Linked DNA regions of Homo sapiens: regions 1 and 2 are each linked to region 3. The links come from fine-mapping of genetic effects on gene expression. A gene starts in region 3. Each other region holds a variant in brackets. All regions are shown on one strand. Distances are between the middles of the regions.

Region 1 (8,182 bases), 68 kb after region 3:
AAAAAAAAAAAAAAAAAAGGAGCCGAGAGTGGGTTTGGGGCAGGAAAAAAGATGAAATTGATTAGAAACAGTAATAATGTATTTATGAGACAGGGTCTCACTCTGTTGCCCAGGCTGGAGTGCAGTGGTGTGATCTCGGCTCACTGTAACCTCAGACTCCTGAGCTCAAGTGATCCTCCAGGCTCCAGCGATTCTCCAACCTCAGCCTCTTTAGCAGCTAGGACTACAGACATGTGCCACCACATCCACCTAATTTTTTTAATACTTTGTAGAGACAGAGTCTTGCTATGTTGCCCAGGCTGTTCTCCAGCTCCTGGGCTCAAGCGATCCTCCCGCCTCAGCCTCTCAAAGTGCTAGGATTACAGGTGTGAGCCACCAAGCTCTGCCAACAGTAAGAATTTGTGTTTCCCAGATACCTAATTAGGCTTCTCCCACCCCATTTCTAGCTAGGGTTCTTATAAAGTAGGTGGGATTTGGGGGTAGGGGATAGAAGATTGAGACTGAGGGTTTAATCTCCCAGGGGAAGCAGGAAGGAGGAGGAAAGCCATGGGATGGAGGCTGCCCCAGCCAACAGTCATCTCCAGCTCTGCCAGCAGAGGGAGCCAGAAACTGAATTTCCTAAGAATGGCAGCTGGCCTGGCCCCTGGGATGGATAAACCCTTCTTGGAAACTAATCAAGTCAGCCCAGGATGCTGTGGAAATGACAGGGACTGGGAGGAAGGGAGGGAGCCAAGAGTTAGGATTACCTGCAGGGTCTTTGCCCTAAGTTTCACAGTCTTTGATGAAAGCCTTCTAAACCTGCCTTTCGGGGTTTGGGTGAAGTGGGCACCAAAGGATAGAGAAACCTTTGACAAGGCAGTCCCACTGCACAAAACATGGCATCCTCCACTCCCTTTGGGTTACCTCAGTGGCTCTCAAGGCCTCACAATTCTGTCTCTAGCCTCATCGTCTCTCCTGAGATTTGGACCTAGATGGCAAAATGGCTATAGGACATGTCACCCCGGAAGCTCAAACTCAACATGGCACCGAACTCACCCTCTCTCCCCTAGACCTGCTCTCTCAATATTTCCCATCTCCATGAATGGCACTACCAACCCCCAAAGTGGTCCAAGTCAGAAACCGGGAAGTGTCTTTGAGGCCTGCCTCATATTTGCCCCTCAAGTTCAATTCATCAGTGAGTCGTGTTGGCTCTACCTCTAAAATACATCCCAAATCCAATCACTTCTCTCCATCTCCACTGCCACCACGGTAGTCTATGCCACCATTCTGTCTCACTTGGACGACTGCACTAGCCTCCTGGCTTGTCTTCCTGCTTCTATTTGTGCCTTTCCCCCACTATCTGATCTCTACCCAAAAACCAGAATCATCTTTCAAAAATACCAAACTGATCATGCCATGGCCCTGTCTAAATCCTTCAAAGCCCCCTCGTTTCCCTCAAGATCAAGTCCTGCCTCCTTACCATGGCTTACAAGGCCTTCCTGATCTGGCCTCTGACTACCTCTCTGGCCACGTCTTACTTCTTCACAACCCCTACACATACATGCACACGATCTCTTCTCAAACTGAACAACTTCCAGCTATTCAGATCTTGCCTCCAGGCCTCCCCACATGCAGTTTCCTCTGCCTGGACTCACCCTTTTCACCTCACTATTGTCTATTCACTCCTCTTGTCTCAGTGCAGGTCTCCCTGCTTCCAGGAACCTTCCCTGATCCTTCTCAACAAGTCATCCTCTGTGATCCCACATCCTGCCTTTATCATTGGGTTTATTCCATGGAATGTAGCTGCCTGGTTACCTGTCTGGCTCCCCCGTGATCATGTGAGCTCTGTGAAGAACATTTCTGTCTTTTTCACAGTTATACCCTCGCAGAGCTCAGAATGGTCCCTACACATAATGGCTGACCAGTAAATAGTTGTTGGATGGATGGATGGATGGATGGATGATCTGTCAATTAGTAATCCTAAAGGAGAGCACTGTGTGCTCTGTTAGAGAACTAGAATGAGGCCTTGGGTGGGAATGATATATCCAAAGACATAATGAGGACCAGAAATCAGGGAAGTGGGGAGGGCCAAGCATACCCATCCCAGCCACTTCTCTTGCCAATACTACCCCTGTCTCCCTTTTATACCTGCCTCCAGATGGACCTGGAAGTAACACAGAGGATTCTGAGTTACACCCAGGAACTAGACAGCCCTCTTCTAGTCCCTTCCCAGATCTTGTGCTAGGACAAAGCCACCCATGCTTGGCTGTGAGATGAACAGGCTCCAGCCAGAGCCCAGTGTCGCTGGACTCTCCAGATGCCCTGTACCCACTTGTTCCCCAAGTCAAGGACATTTCTGGGAGCTCCCCATGAGCTCTCCTGTAGCTTCCTTATCCTCCTTCTGCAGCAGCAGAGAAACCCTCCCTACATAGCATGGGTGCCTCTCACAAAACCTGGGGTCAAGGCTTCTCCCTGGTGCCAGCCCAAGAAGGGACTCCAAGTGGGCATCTAATCCAAATAGGCGTGGCCTTTTTCCCTTCCTCTTTGGCACTAAAAGAGACAGGTAGTAAAAACTACAAGCTCTTGAGGGCAACAGGAGGGAAGTGGGGGCAAAGGTGAAGTTTTTCTACAGCCCTTCAAAGGTCTTGGCCCCTTGCCCAGATCCAAGTCAAGAACTGTTTGTTTCAGAGAACTGGCTTCCCAGCCATCTGCTCAGAGCTTAAAGAGCCTAGGGGCCCTCATGGGATGTTCTGTTCAAATTAGCCAAAAAAGGCAGGGTGAAGACAACACAGCAGGAGGGGCCTTGACCAGTCTGGGCCTCTGAAGGTGTGGAAGGAAGGGGCAGGTATATGGCACTAGGGCACATTGAGGGTATGGCAAGTCCCAGAACAGAGAGCTCTTCTCACAGCCCAGTTCCACTGATCTTAGAACCATGTCTTCCATCCTTTGTGAGCAGCTAATTTATGCCAGGAACTTTCCCCACAACAAACAAGATGTTCTCTTGTACCAGTTGAAGGAACCAAGGATTAGAGAGGTTAATTGCCTTGCACGAGGTCATGCAGCAAGTACACAGCAGGTTCAATGAGTGTCCTCTGGTGATTGGTTGCCAAGGCTGCTAGAAAATGATTCTTCCCTTCAGTGAGCAGATAGGCAGCCTGAGGATAATAGCCAGGAGGGGATACAGAAAGTCACACTCCTTTTGCGCCTAGGACATAGCTTGCTCCATCCAGAAAAAAAAAAAAAAAAAAAAAAAAAAAAAAAAAAAAAAAAAAAAATGTCCTTATTCCTTTGACACACACTGTCTCTGGGTTGTAGAAATGGGTCAGGCACTAAGGTCAGGTTTTACATGTGGAAAATCTTAGGGTGAAGACAGGAAAAGACTTTCTCACAGTCAGAGTGTAAGAGAACAGTTCAGATGAATGGAGCTGTCCAAGAAGCCAGGCAGATATGCAGGAGAAAGACTGACAAGGAAACCCTCTCTCCTAAAATCCCCCACAGCCATGAACATTCACATGAATTGAAAAACCAATCCTCAGCCAGGTGCAGTGGCTCATGCCTGTAATCCCATCACTTTGGGAGGCCAAGGCGGTGGATCACCTGAGGTCAGGAGTTCAAGACCAGCCAGGCCAACATAGTGAAACCCTGTCTCTACTAAAAATACAAAAATTAGCCAGGCGTGGTGGTGCACACCTGTGATTCCAGCTACTCCAGAGGCTGAGTCAGGA[G/A]AATCTCTTGAACCCAGGAGGCAGAGGTTGCAGTGAACTGAGATTGCGCCACTGCACTCCAGCCTGGGTGACAGAGCAAGACTCCATCTCAAAAAAAGAAAAGAAAAAGAAAAAAAAAAACCAATCCTCAGGCAAAATTGCTAGGGGGTAAGTTTGAGGACTTGCAAAAGTAGGGGGCCTTTGGGGCCAATCTTTAGTTCACCAGGGGTTCTCAAGTCTGCATTCATGTGAGACTCACTGGGGATATCTTAAATAATAATTATGTTTGCGATATATTTATCTGACAAAAGACTGATACCCAGAATATATAAAGAGCTCCTACAAATCAATAATAAAATGACCACCCAAAAATATGAGCAAAAGAGTGGAACAGACACCTCATGAGACAGGATATATGAATGGTCAGTAAGCACATGAAAAGATGATCAACATAATTTTCCATTAGGGAAATGCAATTTAAAACTAAAAGGACATGCCTCTACATACCCATGAGAATGGCTATAATTTAAAAGACAGACAATACCAAGTGTTAGCAAAGATATGGAACAACTGTAAGTCTCATCTTTTGCTGGTGGGGGTGTAAATTGGTACAACCACTTTGGAAACCAGCAGTTTCAAATAAAGTTAAACCCAGGAATTCCACTCCAAGAGAAATGAGTATATGTGCTCACAGAGAGACTTGTACAAGAATGTTGATAGCAGCTTTGTTTCTAATAGCCAAAAACTGGGACCAATGCAAATGTCCCTGGATGCCTGAATGGATAAACTTTGGTGTATCCATACAAGGGAATACCACTCAGCCACAAAAAGAAATGAACTACTGATCCTCAGGGCAGTAGGATGAACCTCAAGGGCATTATACTAAGAGAAATAAGGCAATCTCAGAATGTTACATACTGCTTGATTCCATTTCTATGAAGTTCAAGAACAATCAAAATGAATCTATGATAGAAATCAGAACAGTGTCTGCCTCTGGCAGGGGTGAAGGGCAGTGACTGGAGAAATGGAAATGTTCTATGTTTTAATGGGGCAGTGGTTACACAAGCACCCACAATATCACAATTCACTGAACTATACATTTAAGGCCTATGCATTTTACTGTGGGTAAATTATGCCTAAATTTTAAGACTCATGCCCAGGCCTCACCCCTAATTAAATCAAAGTATCTAAAGGTGGGGCCTGGGCAAGGGCATTTTCAAAATCTCCTCAGGTGATGCTAATGTGCAGCCGGGGGTGAGAACCGCTGATAACATTACCACCACCTTTCCCTGGCAACAGTCCCTCTCAGCCTCCTGTGTTCTGGAGACTTTTCAGAGATGCCCATCAGAAAAAGTCTCTCCCACTATCACAAGCAGAGGTAGGCAAGTGGGGATAGAAGGCGAGTGAGGGTAAGTGCATACCAATATATCTCAAAGGTTGTTTCATATCAAAACATAAAGGCACTGAATTTTACACTTTAAAATAGTTAAAATGGTCAATTTTATGTTATGTAAATTTCATCTCAATTTTTCAAGTTAAAAAAAAAATCAGCCGGGCATGGTGGTACGTGCCTATAGTCCCAGCTACTCAGGTGGCTAAGGTGAGAGAATCACTTGATCCCAGGAGTTCAAGACCAGCCTGGGCAACACAGTGAGACCCTATCTCAAAAAACAAAAAAATGACCAAGAACTTCCTTAGATTTGATGGCTGCACATATTCCATTGTAAAGGTGTACTTTATTTAATCAGTCCTCTATTGAAGGATATTTTTCCCAATCTTTTGCTGTTAAAAACATAGTGAGAGCTAGGCATGGTAGCTCACACCTGTAATCCTAGCACTTTGGGAGGCAGAGGTGGGAGGATTGCTTGAGCTCTAGAGTTTGAGACCACACTGGGCAACATAATGAGACCCGTCTCTACGAAAAATAAAAATAAATAAAAACATAGTGACAATAAATATTCTGGTATATGGTTTTTTTTTTTTTTTTTTTTTGAGAGGGAGTCTCACTCTGTCACCCAGGCTGGAGTGCAGTGCCGCAATCTCGGCTCACTGCAACCTCCACCTCCAGGGTTCAAGCAATTCTCCTGCCTCAGCCTCCCAAGTAGCTGGAATTACAGGTGCCCACCACCACGCCTGGCTAATTTTTGTATTTTTAGTAGATATGGGGGTTTTGTCATGTTGCCAGGCTGGTCTTGAACTCCTGACCACAGGTGATCCTCCCACCTCCATCTCCCAAAGTGCTGGGATTACAGGCATGAGCCACCACGCCCGGCCTGGTACATGCATTTTTTTAAAAAATATGTGTGAGTGGGCCGGGTGCGGTGGCTCACGCCTGTAATCCCAGCACTTTGGGAGGCAGAGGCGGGCGGATCACAAGGTCAGGAGATCGAGACCATCCTGGCTAACACAGTGAAACCCCGTCTCTACTAAAAATACAAAAAAAAAAAATTACCCGGGCGTGGTGGCGGGCGCCTGTAGTCCCAGCTACTCGGGAGGCTGAGGCAGGAGAATGGCCTGAACTCGGGAGGTGGAGCTTGCAGTGAGCCAAGATTGTGCCACTGCACTCCAGCCTGGGCGACACAGCGAGACTCTGTCTCAAAAAAAAAAAAATATGTGTGAGTGTATCTGTAGAATAATTTCCTAAAATTGGAATTGTTGGGTCAAAGTGTATATGTCTTTCTTATTTTGCTAGAAACTGCCAAATTGCCCTACATAAGGGATAAATGAATTTACATTCCCATAAACAATATATGAAAGTGTGTGTTTTCCCCACCTTTGCTAACAGTGTTTTCCAACCTTTTGATCTTCACCCCTCTGATTATTAAAAAGTGGTACCTTGTAGTTTTATTTTGCATTTTCCCTGAGAGTAAGTCTTAACTGACTCAGATAAAGACGTTCAAGTGGAGGAGAGGGGTGTTTTTTTCGAGGTAGGGAAGAAGGCAGCTGTTTTAGTTCTGGCTGCTATAACAGAATACCATAGACTGAGTGGTTTAAACAACAAACATGGCTGGGTGCAGGAAGCTCATGCCTGTAATCTCAGCACTTTGGGAGGCTGAAGTGGGAGGCTGAAGTGGACTCACTTGAGTCCGGGAGTTCGGGGCTGCAATGAGCTATGATTGCACCAATGTACTCCAGCCTGGGTGACAGTGTGAGACCCTGTCTCTAAAAAAAACCAAAAAATTAAAAATAAAATAAAAAAAACAAACGAACATTTATTTCTCAGTTCTGGAGGCTGGGAAATCCAGGATCAAGGTGCAGGCAAATTCAGTGTCTGGTGAGGCCCTCTTCCTGGTTTGCAGACATTCACCTTCTTGTTGTACTCTCACTTGAGGGAGAACAGAGAGAAAAAGGAAACAAGCTCTTGGAGTCTTTTCTTTTTAATAAAAAAAATTTTTTTTTGAGAGACAGGGTCTTGCTCTGTCACCCAGGCTGGAATACAGTGGCACAATCACGGTTCACTGTAGCCTCAACCTCCTGGTCTCCAAGCCTAGCTATTTTTATTTTTTATTTTTTCGTAGAGGTGGGTTCTTGCCATCTTGCTCAGGCTGGTCTTGAACTCCTGGCCTCAAATGATCCTCTCATAGGCATGAGCCACTTAGTGCCTGGCCTCCAGGTCTTTTCTTTTCTTTTTTTTTTGAGACAGAGTCTCGCTCTGTCACCCAGGCTGAAGTGCAGTTGTGCAATCTCAGCTCACTGCAACCCCTGCCTCCTGGGTTGAAGCAATTCTCCTGCCTCAGCCTCAGCCTCCCAAGTAACTGGGATTACAGGCACGCGCCACCACACTCAGTTAATTTTTGTATTTTTAGTAGAGACAGGGTTTCACCATGTTGGCCAGGCTGGTCTCGAACTCCTGGCCTCAAGTGATCTGCCCGCCTTGGCCTCCCAAAGTGCTGGGATTACAGGCGTGAGCCACCGCGCCCGGTCCCTCCAGGTCTTTTCTTATAAGACATTAATCCTATTCATGAGGGCTTCACCTTCATGACCTAATCACCTATCAAAGGCCCCACCTCCTAATACCATCCCGTTTTGGGTTAGAATTTCAACATACGCCTTTAGCAGGGACACAACGCATGGTTCATAACAGCAGGTATCTTACCATGTTTCTGTTATAGTTGTGTTAGCTTTGAGCAAGTCACCAAGAATCCAAGGGCTCTTAACTGAATATTAAGGACACCCAAATGTCTTTCTTAGGTCCAAACCTCTCACTGGAGTCCCAGACTCCTATATCAAGTCCCCCTCGACATCTGACATTTCACTCTGAAAACGTCCAAAAGAGAATTATTGGTTCCCAACCCACCCTCAAACTTGACCTGCCCTGGTTTTCCCCAGCTCTACAAACGGCACCACTCAGTTGCTCAAACCAAAAACCTTGAAATTAGAAACATCATCTCTTTCCCTCATCCAGTTCATCACCAAGCCCTGTTGGCTGTCTCCAAAATACATCCTGAATCTCTCCACCTATCCCCACTCCACTGCAACTACCCAAGCCTAAGCCACCT
Region 2 (8,182 bases), 150 kb after region 3:
CTCCCAAAGTGTTGGGATTACAGGCATGAGCCGCCACACCCAGCCATATTATTATTATTATTTGAGACAGGGTCTTGCTCTGTTGCCCAGGCTGGAGTGCAGTGGTGCAATCATGGCTCACTGCTGCCTCGACCTCCAGGGCTCAAGGCATCCTCCTGCCTCAGCCTCCTGAGTAGTTGGTACTACAGGCATGTGCCACCACGCCTAGCTCATTTTTGTATTTTTAGTAGAGATGGGGTTTTGCCATGTTGGCCAGGCTGGTATGGAACTCCTGGGCTCAAGCAATCCTCCCACCTCGGCTTCTCAAAGTGTTGGGATTACTGATGTGAGCCTCCGGGCCCGGCCCTAGGGTATTTAATTGAGTCAGACAACTGAATGAGGAGAAGGAGCCAGTCTAGGGAAGATTGGGGCATTCCAAGCAGGACTAGCGTGTGCATAGATCATGAGGTGAGGGGCCCCTGTCTTAGACAGCTCTATTTATGTCTGTCTTTACCTCTACGTCTGTAGATCTCATCCTTTTTGTAATCACAAAACTCCTTTGAGTGTTGAGACTCTGATAATAGCTATGGCTCTGTGCCCCAGAAAAATGTACATATGTACAGTCACACAAATTTGCATACTATTTCCCTAATTCCTGAAGCCAGGGAACCCCAGGAAGTTTCCTTACCCACAGCGTGTTCACATTTAGGGCAAGAACAGTGTCTACTACTAATATATAACATGCGCTCTACTACATGCTTTTCTGCATTATCTCTTTGGTCCCTCGCAACCACCCCCATGAGGTAGGTACAGGTAAGTGTCGCCATTTGATAGACAATAAGACTAAGGCTCAGAGAGAGGGAGTTACTTGGCCAAGGTCACACAGCTAGTAAGTGAAGGGAGAGGCTTAAACTCAGGCAGTCTGAGGCTGAAGTGTGTTATGTTGCATGCCAAGGCACTACCGGTCAGCTTTGGGCCCAGCACTGAGCAGGAGGTTTGGGGATCTGCCCCTGGCAAATGCAGAGAAGGAGGAGCTGCAGGAGCTTTCTGTATAGGGGCTTAGAGATGTCAAAACACACTTGTTTACGTGGTTGTTTTCTTTCATTCTTCTGCTTTTCTCTTCCTCCTTCTTTTCCTTCTCCTCTTCCTCTTTTTCCTTTTTTTTTTGTTGAATGACAATATTTGATTTTCTTATAAAGAAGTCTTTCTGCCTTAGAGTCTTTTAAATATATAATTGGAAATATACTACTGCTGTCTCTGTGACAGCTAACATTGAATGCAGCAGAGGCAGATCCACCCTCCCCAAAGGAAAACTGGTGGGAATTTTCCATTGACTTAAAAACAAATGTTATGTATTAACTTTTTTGGGACCAGGTAATACATTCACATGGTTCAAAAATCAAAAGGTACAAAAAGGAACTGAGTGCAGGTCGCCCTCACTCTGCCACTTGCCATCTGGTTCCCTTGCCCAGAGGCAACTGAGGTGTCCCAGTTCCTTGTGTATTTTCCCAAAGGTGTTTTATGCACATATATGCATATCCAATATCGATATTCCTTTTTAAGTGGTTATTTTCTTACCCCTTGAGTTGGAGACATAGTCTACACTTCTTTCTTGGTCTCTTTGGCCCTTGTGAGTGCCCTGGAGACAGAGGGGGCTGGTGGGTTTCCTATAAGCACTGGGTTTTCCTCAGAGGTGAGCCTTCCCTGGACCATTTCCAAGGCAGGCCCTCCTGTCCAGAATACACGCTTTTCAAAGTGCTTCCATCTTTGGTAATTCATCAACCACTCACAATAGCCCATGAGGTGCAAGAATTATTCACCCCATTTTATGGGTATGGAAACAGACCCAGAAAGGTCAAGCAACTTGCTGAAAAGCACACAAACGAATGAATGCTACTGTGTGGTGAGGGCCCAGAAGCAGCATGTGGCTTGGTCCAGCTTGGGCTTTGGAAGCAGTAAGAAAGTTGTTTACTTCAAAGTCACAGTTTAAAAATATTCTAGTGGCACTAGTGTGGGACAGTGGAAAAAGTAAGGGAATTTGCAGTTCCAGCCGGGTTTTTCTTCCTGGCTCTGCCACTTAAAAAGGGGCATGTTACTTCATCATTCTTAGCCTCAATTTTCTAATCTATAGAGTGGGGATGATAATACCCACTAGCAGGGTGGATAGTGACGTACAAGTGAAAATGATCTGTAAAATGGGGCATATGCCAATGCTTGCTTTACCATTGTTGTTATAGTTATTGTGGCTGGTCCCTTGCAGACACAAGGGGTGGGTGGTGGCGGGGTCGGCAGCAATTTCCTAAAGGTAAGACAGGCAGGCTTATGGTGGGGACAAATTTGCCCCACCCTCAAGCCAACTGATCTAAAAAGCATCCCCCTCCCCCGCATCCCCCTCCCCGCCATCGCCCCCACTGATCGGTCTTCCAGGCAATTAGAACAGCCCCAGGGCCTGAGCACAAAGTCTTCCTCAGTGGGTGTCTTGAACTGACTTTGATCTGTAACTACCCCCTAACTCCCCGCGGATCAATTGTTTCTTTTTTTTTTTTGGGGTTTATGTATTTATTTTTTTCTATTATTAAAGTAAAATGTGCCCACTACAGAAAATTTGGAAAATACTGAAAAGTAGAAATGTGCTCCCACAGCTCTGAGCTCATGTTGATAACAGAGCTGGAAACATGTTGGGATCTGCTTCTTTTTCTCCTCCCTTGCCTTGTCTGGGAATTCCTAGACAGCCAGGATGGATGGGGCTGTGTGCTTGTCTGCCGTCCCGGTCCCAGTAGTTAGTTGAAGGAGCTTTGTAAATATTTGGTAAATAAAATTACAATATCATGACATTTAGTTGTCTCTTCCTCATCTCTCCCATTATCTCCCATCCCCATTTTTCCATGTTGCCAACTCCCCAGAGGTTGCAGTAACACCACACATTACAACTTCCTCCCCTTTTCATTATGTGCCAATTGTCTACTGGGAAGCATCCTTTCTATCCATGGAAGTGCTCCTCTTGGATCTGACATGCCAACACACCTTTTCCATCCCTAAATCACTCCCTGGACAGGGACAGCTCCTCCCCAGGGTGCCAATAAGCCCCTCTCCATGACTGCAGTGCCAGTATTCCTACCCCACCATGGACAGCCCCAGTGCAACACAGAGCTTGGCCTTCTGTCCCAAGAACTTGGGCTAGGGACACACTAGTTCCCCAGTGAGGTCAGACTCTCAAGCCGGGCCAGAGTAGAGATTGGAAGGAACAGGGTTATTCTTGACACTTCAGCGAGAAGAAAAGTTCAGAACTGTGTGTGCTGTCAGTGGCGCTTTACAATGAAGACAACGGGACAAAGAGGTAGGTTTTCAAAGATTTTATTAAAAAAACCAAAGATATATAACACTAAAACAACACCAGCGGACTTCTCCCCACCTCCCAGTCTGCTGATCAGTACCCTCTCTCCCAGGGCTCCACCTGGATGGTCCTGAGGCCCAAACCCTGCCTGTCAGCTGCCTCCTGCCCTACAAACTGGTGACTGCTCTCATCCAGCTTCTGATCTGTTTCATTTAAGATGATTAAAATACTCCCCTCCCCAATTCGCTTAAAAATAATTTTCAAAGATTAAAAATTTCATTTGTGTGTGTGTGTTTTTTTAAATAAGAACTTTAAATGTGGGATATCTCCTTCTTCCCCTAGGTCCAGTTGAGGACTCTGGGGTGCCTGCCTCTTCACCCCAGGAAGCCAGCTGCCACTTGATGCCCCTTGGAAATTTTCAGGAAGTAATTTCTTTCAAATTTTCCCTGCAGTCACAAATTCCACAAACTGCTTGCATAAACACGCTGTCTTCATTATAGGCACCACTCCTCAGCTCTGGAAACCTGATCTCTTTCTGTCAACTAGACCACATGCTTCAGATTCCCTGCAAACAGGGGAGAAAACAAAATTCAAAGTCAGGTAATG[T/C]ATGTGAATTATACCCCAATAGAGCTATTTTTTAAAAAGCACTTATATTTTGGGGCTTATTCTCTGCTGCTCTTGGGAACTCTGTGACCTCGCCATAAGGAACAAGACCAGAATAGCTTGCTGGATGATGAGAAACAAATGGCCCAGAGATCCCTGTCACCCAGGCAACCACCAGCCAATTACTGGACATGTGATCGAGGCCTTTGACAGCCAGCTGACTGCAGATGCTGGGTGTATCCAGCCAGAACCAGAAGAGCCACCCAGCTGAACTCAGCTCAATTGCCAATCTATAGAGTCATGAGCTAAACAAATGGTTGTTTTAAGTCTCTCTCTCTCTCTCGTAACACTTTTCAGAGTTCATTCTTTACTAACTGCATCAAATCTCATGCTCCCCACCCCCAACTTTTCTTCCTTCCCTTAGCAAGGCACAACCCTCCTAGCATTTTCTCTTGTGAGTACCTGTGAAACACGGATTGGGGGCTTTCCTCTGATCTCAGGCCTAAGAGTCTTTGAGGGAAAAGTGATCATTTGAAATCCTACCGGACTGGGCTCTAGGAATGAAAAGTTGCTCACTTTGTCCCTCCGTAGTCTTTGCCTTGCCACACTTCCCCAAGTAGAAACACTGGGCTCCAAACCCTACTGGCCACTTCTCTGAAACAGAAACAATGCTCCCTGAGGGCAGGGCCTGGCTGTCTTACTTTTGGTTGATTTCCAAAGTCTTGCACAGTGCCTCACTCATAGTAGGTGCTCAGTAAATGGCTGAATGAATGGACGAATGAAAGGAAGGAAGGAAAGAAGAAACAAGTCAGAAACAAACTACTTGCCTATCTTTTTTTTTTTTTTTTTTTTTTTGAGATGGAGTTTTGCTCTTGTTGCCCAGGCTGTCGTACAATGGCGCGGTCTCGGCTCACTGCAATCTCCCGGGTTCAAGCAATTCTCCTGCCTCAGCCTCCCGAGTAACTATGACTACAGGTGTGTGCCACCATGCCCAGCTAATTTTTGTATTTTTAGTAGAGATGGGGTTTCACCATGCTGGCCAGGATGGTCTCGATCTCTTGATCTCGTGATCCACCCGACTCGGCCTCCCAAAGTGCTGGGATTACAGGTATGCCCGGCCTTGCCTATCTACTTTTATTTTAAATTTTATTCTGCAGTAAAATTGACATTTGTGCATGTGCAGATCTGATTTTAAACATATGTATAGATTCATGACAGAGAGGAGTTCCATAACCCCTCAAATCTCCTTGTGCTATCCTTTTGCAATCACATCTTCCTTTCTCCCCCACACCTAGCAAGCACTGATCTGTTCTCCATCACTGTAGTGTTGTCTTTTTGAGAATGCCATATAAATGCAATCAAACAGTCTGTAACCTTTTAAGATAGGCTATTTTATTTTTTTACTCAGCATAATGCCTTTGAGGTTCATGCAGATTTGTGCATGTATCAATAGAAGTTCATTCCTTTTTTGTACTGAGCTCTTACTTTTAAAATAATTATAGAATAACAGGAAGCTGCAAAAAAAAAATAGTGCAGAGAGGTTCTACACACCCTTCCCCAGGTTTCCCCACATGTTAACATCTTACATAATTACTGTTCAATATCCAAGTCAGGAAATTGACATTGGTACAATTCACAGATCTTATTAATATGTCACTAGTTTTACAAGCACTCATTTGTGTGTGTATAAGTGTATAATTCTAGGCCATTTAATCGCAAGTGTAGATTCATGTAACCTCAACCACAATCAAGATGCGAAACTATTTTATCACCACAAAGATTTCCCTCCTCTACCTCCTTTACAGTCATTCCCATCCCTCCTCCTTCACCATCCCTAAGTCCCAACAACCATTCATCTGTTATCCTTCTCTAAAATTTGGTCATTTTGAGAATGTTATAGAAATGGAACCATACAGTATATAAACTTTTGAGATAGATAGGCTTTTTTCACTCAGCATACTGCTCTTAAGATCCATCCAAGTTGTGGTGTGTATCAAGTTTGTTGCTTCTTTTTGCTGAGTAGTACTCCACAGTATGGATGTAGCACAATCTGTTTAACTACTTATCTGCTGAAGGACACCTGAGTCATTTCCAGTTTTTGGCTATAGAATCAAGCCACTATGAACATTCACATACAGGTTTTTGTGTGAACATAGTTTTCATTTTTCTGGGACAAATGCTCAACAGAATAATTGCTGGGAGGTATGGTAGTAGCATGTTTAGCTTTATAAGAAATTGCCAAACTGTTTTCCAGACTGGTGGTACCATTTTACTTTCCCTCCAGCAATGTTTGAGTCATCTGGTTTCTCAGCATTCTTGCTGGCATCTGGTGTTGGTTTTTATTTTGGCCATTCTGATAGATGTATAGTGATATCACATTGTGATCTCAATTTGCATTTTCCCAATGGCTAATGATGTTGAACATCTTTTCATGTGCTCATTTGCTGACTGTATATCCTTTTCATGTCTTGTCTTTTGCCTACTTCCTAATTGTTTTTTTTTTTTTCTGTTGAGTTTGGAAAGTTCTTTATATATATTTTTTATTTTTATTTTTTGAGACACAGTCTCACTCTGTCACCCAGGCTGGAGTGCAGTGGTGCGATCTCGGCTCACTGCAAACTCCGCCTCCTGGGTTCAAGCGATTCTCCTACCTCAGCCTCCCTAGTAGCTGGGATTACAGGCATGTGCCACCATGCTCGACTAATTTTTGTATTTTTAGTAGAGAGGGGATCTCACCATGTTGGCCAAGCTGGTCTCAAACTCCTGACCTCAAATAATCCACCCGCCTCAGCCTCCCAAAGTGCTGGGATTACAGGTGTGAGCCACTGCACCCAGCCCTTTATATATTTTAGATACAAATCTGTTGTGGGATATATGATTTGCAAATATCTTATCTCAGTATGTAACTTATCTTTTCATTCCCTTAACAGGGTCTTTTGTAAAGCAAAAGTTGATTTTGATGAGCTCCAATTCCTTATCAATTTTTTTTCTTTTTTTGGATCATGCTTTTGGTATTTCAACCCCCTAACCTCAAAAAAATCTCTGGATAATCTTTGATCCTTAATTTCTTAGTTCACGCCTTCTCCACATCTTATGAGTTGTGAAGCCTAACCTCAAGATGTCTCTCCAATCTATCCCCTTCTTTCTGTTCCACTGTCTCTGCTTTAGTCACATCTCTTGTTACTCAGGTCACTGCGACAACCTCTTATCTGGTCCTCCTGCTTCTAGAGCTATTCCCTGCACAATTGCTAGCTGTGATCACATTCCTTCTCTGCTCAAAAAGACTTCAGCAGGCTGGGCGTGGTGGCTCATGCCTGTAATCCCAGCGCTCTGGGAGGCTGAGGTGGATGCATCACCTGAGGTCAGGAGTTTGAGACCAGCCTGACCAACATGGTGAAACCTCGTCTCTACTAAAAATACAAAAAAATTAGCCAGGTGTGGTGGTGGGCGCCTGTAACCCCAGCTACTGGGGAGGCTGAGGCAGGAGAATCGCTTGAACCTGGGAGGTGGAGGTTGTAGTGAGCCGAGATGGTGCCATTGCACTCCAGCCTGGGTGACAGAGCGAGACACCATTTCAAAAAAAAAAAAAAAAAAAAGACTTTAGCAGTTCCCGACCTACCACCTATGAATGAAGTCCAACTCCTTAGCGTAAATGGGCCCCATCCATGCTTTCCTGTTTCCACACCTTCGCTTGTGTTGTTGCCTCAGCTGAGGACAACCTACAGGGGACACTGGTGTGAAGTGAGAGTCCTTCCATCTGTAAGTATAGCCAGAGCTAGGGGAATGACTGAATGCAAGGATGAACAAAATTCCATGTCAAAGCATTCCAACAAGACATGTTCGCAGGGAGGAAAGGTGGGTGCTGTACTCCTCTGCTGCTCTGCCTCACTCTCCAGTTAAATTTGGAGGCAATTAAGAAAAACAACAGAAATAATTTTCACCAAGAAGTTGATGATGAGCAATGTTGAATTGGGGTAACAATAAAAATGCAAGCTTAAATAATGCCCATTGTTTTCCCCTCACATCTAGCTTTTCCAGCAGTGGGTGGCAGCCTGAGAAAATTCTAAAGGCTAGCACAGGCTGGGGCCTAGGGAGACAAGAAGTTCAGACCACAGCGGGCAGACTCAACTGCCTAGAGAGGCCAAGAATATACTGTTTGTAAAGCAGGCTGGGGGCAAGACACAAGGGGCCCTCTTGATCCTTTTTTCATTTTCTTACTTTGAATCATGACATAAGTGTAAGAAATATTTCCCTTTTTTCTTAACT
Region 3 (8,182 bases):
GACTCACGGAGACACATCAGTCATATCAGCAATATATTTAATATTAATACCTATGTCCATTTGCCACGAAGAGTAGTTATTTTTATAGGTGGCTGATTTCATCCACTATGTACTGATTTTTTTCCTGTCTTCATTTTCCAAACATGACCTTTTCCTGTCCTTGTTCCCAGAGTCTGGGGCCTAGAGCTGCCTATGCAATGACCATCTATGAATGGGATCAACTAGATCTCTGTGTTTTGTTGCTTCAAGCTTTCCCCTGCAGAATAAGCTCTGCTGGGATCCCAAATAGGAAAGAAACTGTGGTTCTTTGGCTGTGGAGCAGGTCAGGTGGGGCAGTGTGTGAGTCTGGGCCAAGGTCTGTGAACCTCTGTCCTGGGAAGAGGGCTGCCAGCTTCTCTTCCTGATTTTCCTCAAGTAACGCATAAAAGAATGAACCTGATGAGGTAATTAGTAGAAAATACAACTGGCAGCCATTGCTGGCTGAGTCGCAGTGCACACTCCAGCAGATGTTACCATAGTTTCAAGGCTGAATTTTTCTCCTCTTTTCTCCCCCTGACCTCTCTCTTCAGTTAATTTGTCACTCTGCTCCACAGACCCCTCCACAGTCTGCCTCCATAGACTGGTGCAGACTTAACCCTGAATAGAAGCTGGCTTTTCTATGATTTGCTTTTCAAATTACGTTTATTGTCTTTTTCTCTTGAATAAAAAATAAGTGTCAAGTGATAGAATATAATATAAACTGAAGAAAATGAAAGTTAAACTCACATTTCAGAATACTTAAAATTGTATCCTAATACCTGCCCCATCTTTTTGTAATCATACTGCATAGTTGAGATCTGTCTTAAAGTGCTCCTGACCTTGAAACCTCCAGCAGGCCTATGCCCATTCTTTTCCCCTTGGAGCTGTTGGCCTTCAGTCTTGCTTGAAAAATGCAGCCATGGACACAGGCTTATTATCATTGTTGCTGTTATTATCTGCTGGAATGCACAGAGCTCTCACAGTGTTCCAGGCACTAAGCATTTGCTAGGCACATCAGCCATTGACAGACATTGGCTGTTCATTGGGATCGGAACTCTAGTTTGCTTCATTCCTACTTCACAACTGCCATAGCCAGTGGTCACAGGAAAGGCTCTTCCCAACGAAAAATCAAAAGTAGGGTCTCCCTCTGATGCCGAGCCAAGGCTGGACGGTGCTGCTGCCATCTCGGCTCACTGCAGCCTCCCTGCCTGATTCTCCTGCCTCAGCCTGCTGAGTGCCTGCGATTGCAGGCGCACGCCGCCACGCCTGACTGGTTTTCGTTTTTTTTTTGGTGGAGACGGGGTTTTGCTGTGTTGGCCGGGCTGGTCTCCAGCTCCTAGCCGCGAGTGATCCGCCAGCCTCGGCCTCCCGGGGTGCCGGGATTGCGGACGGAGTCTCGTTCACTCAGTGCTCAGTGGTGCCCAGGCTGGAGTGCAGTGGCGTGATCTCGGCTCGCTACAGCCTCCACCTCCCAGCCGCCTGCCTTGGCCCCCCAAAGTGCCGAGATTGCAGCCTCTGCCCAGCCGCCACCCCGTCTGGGAAGTGAGGAGCGTCTCTGCTTGGCCACCCATCGTCTGGGATATGAGGAGCCTCTCTGCCTGGCTGCCCAGTCTGGAAAGTGAGGAGCGTCTCTGCCCGGCCGCCATCCCATCTAGGAAGCGAGGAGCGCCTCTTCCCCGCCGCCATCCCATCTAGGAAGTGAGGAGCGTCTCTGCCCGGCCGCCCATCGTCTGAGATGTGGGGAGCACCTCTGCCCCGCCGCCCTGTCTGGGATGTGAGGAGCGCCTCTGCTGGCCGCAACCCTGTCTGGGAGGTGAAGAGCGTCTCTGCCCGGCCGCCCCGTCTGAGAAGTGAGGAAACCCTCTGCCTGGCAACCGCCCCGTCTGAGAAGTGAGGAGCCCCTCCGTCTGGCAGCCACCCCGTCTGGGAAGTGAGGAGCGTCTCCGCCCGGCAGCCACCCCGTCCGGGAGGGAGGTGGGGGGGGTCAGCCCCCCGCCCGGCCAGCCGCCCAGTCCGGGAGGGAGGTGGGGGGATCAGCCCCCCGCCCGGCCAGCCGCCCCGTCCGGGAGGGAGGTGGGGGGGTCAGCCCCCCGCCTGGCCAGCCGCCCCATCCGGGAGGGAGGTGGGGGGTCAGCCCCCCACCTGGCCAGCCGCCCCGTCCGGGAGGGAGGTGGGGGGGGTCAGCCCCCCGCCCGGCCAGCCGCCCCGTCCGGGAGGGAGGTGGGGGGATCAGCCCCCCGCCTGGCCAGCCGCCCCGTCCGGGAGGTGAGGGGCGCCTCTGCCCAGCCGCCCCTACTGGGAAGTGAGGAGCCCCTCTGCCCGGCCAGCCGCCCCGTCCGGGAGGGAGGCGGGGGGGGGGTCGGCCAGCCGCCCTGTCCGGGAGGGAGGTGGGGGGGTCAGCCCCCCGCCCGGCCGGCCGCCCCGTCCGGGAGGTGAGGGGCGCCTCTGCCCGGCCGCCCCTACTGGGAAGTGAGGAGCCCCTCTGCCTGGCCAGCCGCCCCGTCCGGGAGGATGGTGGGGGGGTCAGCCCCCCGCCCGGCCAGCCGCCCCATCCGGGAGGTGAGGGGCGCTTCTGCCCGGCCGCCCCTACTGGGAAGTGAGGAGCCCCTCTGCCCGGCCACGACCCCGTATGGGAGATGTGCCCAGCGGCTCATTGGGGATGGGCCATGATGACAATGGCGGTTTTGTGGAATAGAAAGGCGGGAAGGGTGGGGAAAAAATTGAGAAATCAGATGGTTGCCGGGTCTGTGTGGATAGAAGTAGACATGGGAGACTTTTCATTTTGTTCTGTACTAAGAAAAATTCTTCTGCCTTGGGATCCTGTTGATCTGTGACCTTATCCCCAACCCTGTGCTCTCTGAAACATGTGCTGTGTCCACTCAGGGTTAAATGGATTAAGGGCGGTGCAAGATGTGCTTTGTTAAACAGATGCTTGAAGGCAGCATGCTCGTTAAGAGTCATCACCACTCCCTAATCTTAAGTACCCAGGGACACAAACACTGCGGAAGGCCGCAGGGTCCTCTGCCTAGGAAAACCAGAGACCTTTGTTCACTTGTTTATCTGCTGACCTTCCCTCCACTATTGTCCTATGACCCTGCCAAATCCCCCTCTGCGAGAAACACCCAAGAATGATCAATAAAAAAAAAAAATAAAAAATAAAAAATAAAAAAAAAAAAAAAAGAAAGAAAAATCAAAAGTAAATGTTCCTCTTGGGCCTCTTGGCCATAGATAACCTGATGAACACAAGGCTACGCTGTCATCGTCAACACCCAATCCCAACTCCCCCGCCCCTCCATCTCGCAGCCGAACTTGGAGAATTAGTACAGGTGCGGGATCCACTTCAGAAGTGGCAGAGCAATGATCCCCTCACCACTAGATGTGTCCTCCGCAGTTGATCACTCCCAATCCGAAAACAAGGAGTGCCCAAAATGTGTCCAGAATTTAAAGCAGCCAAACATAAGAGGGCTCCATGTTATGTCTTGAGTAGGGAATGAGCACAGTCTCAGAAACACCTGATTCCCTGGTATGAGCATGAAGCATCTCCAGGTCCAGCAAGGCTGCATCCAAAAACTAAACTCTGAGCTGGAAGACCTCTATATTCTGGCTGGTAGTGGCAAGCTAGGACAGCTCTCTCATGGACTGGAGGAAACGCCCTGACATATCATATACAAATTATTGATGGTGGGAGGGATTGTAAGGGGAGAAAAAGTGTGTGGGCACAAATTCAAAAATCATTTATCTTAGGCAAACATTATTAATATGAGCAAGCCATCATTTTATGTGCTTTACAGATATGAACTTGTTTAATTCTCTTAACACCTGATAGGATAATAGTAGGTACTATTATCATCAACTCCATTTCACAGATGATGAAACTGAGCCAAAGAGAGGTGAAGTAACTTCCTCAAGGTCATGGAGCTAGTAGACAGATGTGGAGCAGGGATTTGAAACTGGGCAATCTGGCTCCAGAATCCATGCTTTTACTACACTATGCTGCACCATTATGGAAATTTTGGAAAATACACAGAAACAAACACGATGACCTGTATGCACTAGCACCACTGGCCACATCTTGCTCTATAGCTTTCCTCTCCTTTATATTCATATAACATACAATACATTACATATACTTCTTTTACAAGGAATCATATTCTTTATCTTGGTCTTAAAAACATTTCCCCTATCTGTACACACAGCCTTACAATCGTTATTTTGAATGTTGTATAATATCTTCTTGTGTGGCTAAAACATTATTTAAGCAGTACCCGACTGAGGAGCACTCAGACTGCTTCCAATGTTTCTCCATGACTGAGCTCTGCAAGACGCAAAAAGGTGACAGGCTTTTTTAAAAACTACCTTTTGAACCTAATTAGCTACAACTGCAGAATAAAATTAACAAACGAAAAACTGCCAGGGAGGGCAGCCCTGTGTGTAGGAGGAGACAGCGGAAGTTGGCCGCCACCACAGTACTCCTGCTTCCCTTTGTCTGGCGGCCCCGCGGGATTGGCCAGAGCTGGCGCCGAGGGACTGCAGAGCCACCCACCCCCGTGGCTCCTACTGCGCACGCGTGAAAAAAGCCAGGTTGAGGGGAACGGGGGAGCTTCGGGCGTAGAGTGTGGGGAGTGGGGGATCTGGTGCAAATTAGGGTGCGTGAAAGAAGTCACAAAAAGCGCAGAGGCCAGGCTTCCCGCCCTAATCCGGCCTTTGTCTCCGCCCCTCTGCCTTTGTTTCGGCCCAAGCGTCTTATTGGTCAGACATCTTCAGCCCCATTGGTCCAAGAGCCAAAGGACGGGGTCTGCCCCAAGCTGTGCCTGCTTCCGGAGCCGCAATAAGAACGGTCAATTGAGATGCGGCTTTCAGGCATTTGTTTAGGACATGCCCATGGCGGGGCTTCTAAAGGGGCTTGTACGGCAACTGGAGCGGTTCAGCGTTCAACAACAAGCTTCCAAGATGCCGCCCAAAGGAAAAAGTGGTTCTGGAAAAGCGGGGAAAGGTAGAGCGGCCAGAGCGATCAAGGAGAATGGGGGCGGGTGAGGAGCGAAGGGAGGGAACAGACAGTCCATCTCCGGAGTCCGGGACGGACGCAGCAGGTAGCCAGTGGCCCCACAGTGCTGCCATCGATTACATCTGTAGGAATACATTGGGCTACGGTTCAGGGACCGTCCTAGTGGGTAATGGAATCTGATGGGGATAGTTCCTCGGAGGCGATGACTTAGGGCTGCTATTTCAAGGGGTTATTAGAGCTCTAAAATTGGGTCTTATCAAAAGCCAGCAATAGGAAGTACACATTGGTTATGGTCCTTAAAGTTCACTTTAATGCTTACAGAATGACATGCCCACCATCGGGGAAGGAATCATTCATCCATTGAACAGAAATGTGTCAGGCAGAGTGCTAAGCGCTGAGGATACACAAATAAGACAGAAGGCTGGGCGCGGTGGCTCACGCCTATAATCCCAGCACTTTGGGAGGCCGAGGGAGGATGGATCACGAGGTCAGGAGTTCGAGACCAGCTTGGCCAACATGGCGAAACCCCGTCTCTACTAAAAATACAAAAATTCGCCAGGCGTGGTGGTGGTGCGCGCCCGTAATCCCAGCTACTCGGGAGGCTGAGGCAGGAGAATCGCTTGAACTCGGGAGGCAGAGGTTGCAATGAACCGAGATCGCGCCACTGCACTCCAGCCTGGGCGACAGAGCGAGCCTCTGTCTCAAAAAAAAAAAAGAGATTTTGGCCTTAAGGAGCTCCCGAAGTAGTGAGGAAGATAAAGGCTTAGTGATCATAAAGCACTGTACTAAATGTAGTGTTGAGGGATGTGTATGGGATATAATAGAAATTGAGGGAAGTCCTTCATTTAGCTGGGGAACAGGGAACGGAAGACTTCCTGGAGATGAATTAGGCAGGTCAAGATGTGCATTGAGGGTAGGTTAAAGCATTCCTTACTTGGGGTCCAGCAGCAAAAGCACTGAGGTGAGAAACAGCATGATGTGTGCAGCGTAGTGTTGCTGGAGCAAAAACTCAAGGCAGAATGGCAAGTGGTGAGAATGAAAACAGAAACAAAGACGAGATCATGGAGAGTGCTATATATTCTGCTAAGAAGGACAGTTAAGGATCAGAAAGACCTGTAAGGAGATTGTTGTGGTAGTCTTGGTGAGAGATGATGGTGGACTGACCTAAGGGAGTGGCTGTGGGAACTGAGAAAAGAGAAAAGATTCTGTAAATATTAGGATGTGAAATAGTCAAGACTTGGTGATTTATTGGGTTGGGGAGGGGTGGTGAGGGAGGATCAACGATCATTCTGTTTTCTGGATTGGATTTCTAACCTGTTGCTGGTCCTGCAGGGTAACATCAAGGATACATGAGGAGCGGGGATGAGATTGATGAATTCACTTTCAGATAGATTGGCTTTGAGGTGTCTGTGGGACATCTCAGTGGAGATGTAGTCAGGAAGTGGTTGGATATTTGAGTCTAAAGTTTGAGGGAGAGGTCTAGACTGTACATGTAAGTTTTAGGAGTCGCTAACTTATAGATGGTAGTTGAGCCCATTAGAGTGTATGCAATTATCCATGGAGAGTTTATAGAATGAAAAGAGCAGAGAGCAGAGGATGTGATCCTAGGACAGGCAGAGAAAGAGGCAGACAGATAGAGGGAGTGCAGAATGGTGGCCAGAGGCTGGAGAGACCAGAATGTTTTAAAGAGAGAGGGTATAGTCTATCAAGAACAGCAGATTTGGAAATTAGAGGTGGCCTTGGGTAAAAGTGGTTTCAGTGAAACAGAAGCCAGATTACCGTGACTAGAGAACTGACTGGGAAGTGGTAATTTGGACTTCTTGGAAAGTTTTAATTGAAAAGCATGGAAATGGGATGGTAGATAGAGAAGGACAGAGGATTAAGAGAAAGTTTTATTTTCTTTGCTTCTTTGGAATGGGGAAAACTTGGGAGTGAAGCTGAAGGATCCAGTAAAGTAAAAGAGGTAAAGGTACAGAAGAGTGAGATTTAGGAGAAAATGGAATCCAGGACCTAGGGGGAGCAGGGACACCTTATGCTTGAGGTCATAGGAAAGGAGATGGAGGGGCAGGGACTCAGTAGGCATCTTGAGGAGAGTGGTAAAGGTCTGGAATATCGTAATGGAAGAGGGAATGAAACACAAAAGAAGTGCCTTCAGGGCTAGGAGCCTGACTAAGATCAAAGGCCATGAATTTGTAGACTACATAATCTTCACAGTCTGATTTACCTAGTACTATGCAATTGGCACAATATAGGATTGAAAAGAGCTAGGTGCAGCCTTAAGCCATGGTTGAGGTTTTGTTAGGCAGTTATGATAGGAGGATAGCAACACCAGGGAATTACAAGGGCCAGTGGGAATGCAGTTCAGATGAAGGAACATGGGGTCCAGAGTGGGAAGGGAAAAAGAAGTCTGGTGGCCTAGGTGAATGTAGCAGGACGAAGGGACTGGGGTCAAGGGAGAGGTTCTGTGAAGTTAAAGAGCAAGTATTGTGGGAATGAGACATGAGGAAGCTGGAAGAACAGGAGGTTATAGCCAGAGACTGAACTAGTTCTGAGTGGCACAGTTCCATCGTGTGCCCCCGGGGCAGGTAGCTTGGAGTAGAGAGCATGACATTCGGGAAAGAGACCTAGAACTGAGATTCCCCAAGATAGATGGTGAGGTCACTCAAGGTAATGGCAGGAGTGAGGGTGGAGAGGAAGCCCAAAGCTGATGCCAGAGTCGTCAGGAAATCAAAGGCAGTGAGGTGGCAGTCAGAAGATGACAGCATCCAGCAGGGAAGAGGATGGGATAACTGGAAGGCATCATCATTCAAGAATGGATCTATAGCAAACCCAGTTAGGAGTTTGATTTAATAACACTCCTTTGGCAGTAACATTTTTTTAGGGTTTTGGTAGTCAGTATTTGGGGTTTTCAGTTTAATCAAACATTTATTAAAACACCTTTTGTGTGCCAGGCATTGTGCTAGGCTTGGAGATACTAAGACAAGCAAGATGGAGACTCTTGCTTAAAACTTTTCAATGGCGGCCAGGCGCGGTGGCTCACGCCTGTAATCCCAGCACTTTGGGAGGCCGAGGCTCGCAGATCACGAGGTCAGGAGATCGAGACCATCCTGGCTAACAGGGTGAAACCCTGTCTCTACTAAAAATACAAAAAAAATTAGC

The links.
Region 1: its variant is fine-mapped to the expression of PIN4 in lung (TOPMed, PIP 0.97).
Region 2: its variant is fine-mapped to the expression of PIN4 in whole blood (TOPMed, PIP above 0.99).

What each region holds. Positions count from the first base shown.
Region 1 is chrX:72,245,083-72,253,264 of GRCh38, forward strand. It overlaps a transcript of PIN4 not described here. Among named protein-coding and RNA genes, the nearest start is that of ERCC6L, 10 kb to the left of the region's middle. The variant G/A (reference allele first, on the strand shown) is at 3,705.
Region 2 is chrX:72,326,199-72,334,380 of GRCh38, forward strand. It overlaps HDAC8 (histone deacetylase 8), which reads right to left. Exons shown (of 11, transcript NM_018486.3): 11 at 3,318-3,878. The coding sequence ends at 3,856. Among named protein-coding and RNA genes, the nearest start is that of CITED1, 24 kb to the left of the region's middle. The variant T/C (reference allele first, on the strand shown) is at 3,920.
Region 3 is chrX:72,176,818-72,184,999 of GRCh38, forward strand. PIN4 (peptidylprolyl cis/trans isomerase, NIMA-interacting 4) reads left to right here and starts at 4,940. Exons shown (of 4, transcript NM_006223.4): 1 at 4,940-5,011. The coding sequence starts at 4,969. RefSeq lists an enhancer at 4,980-5,199.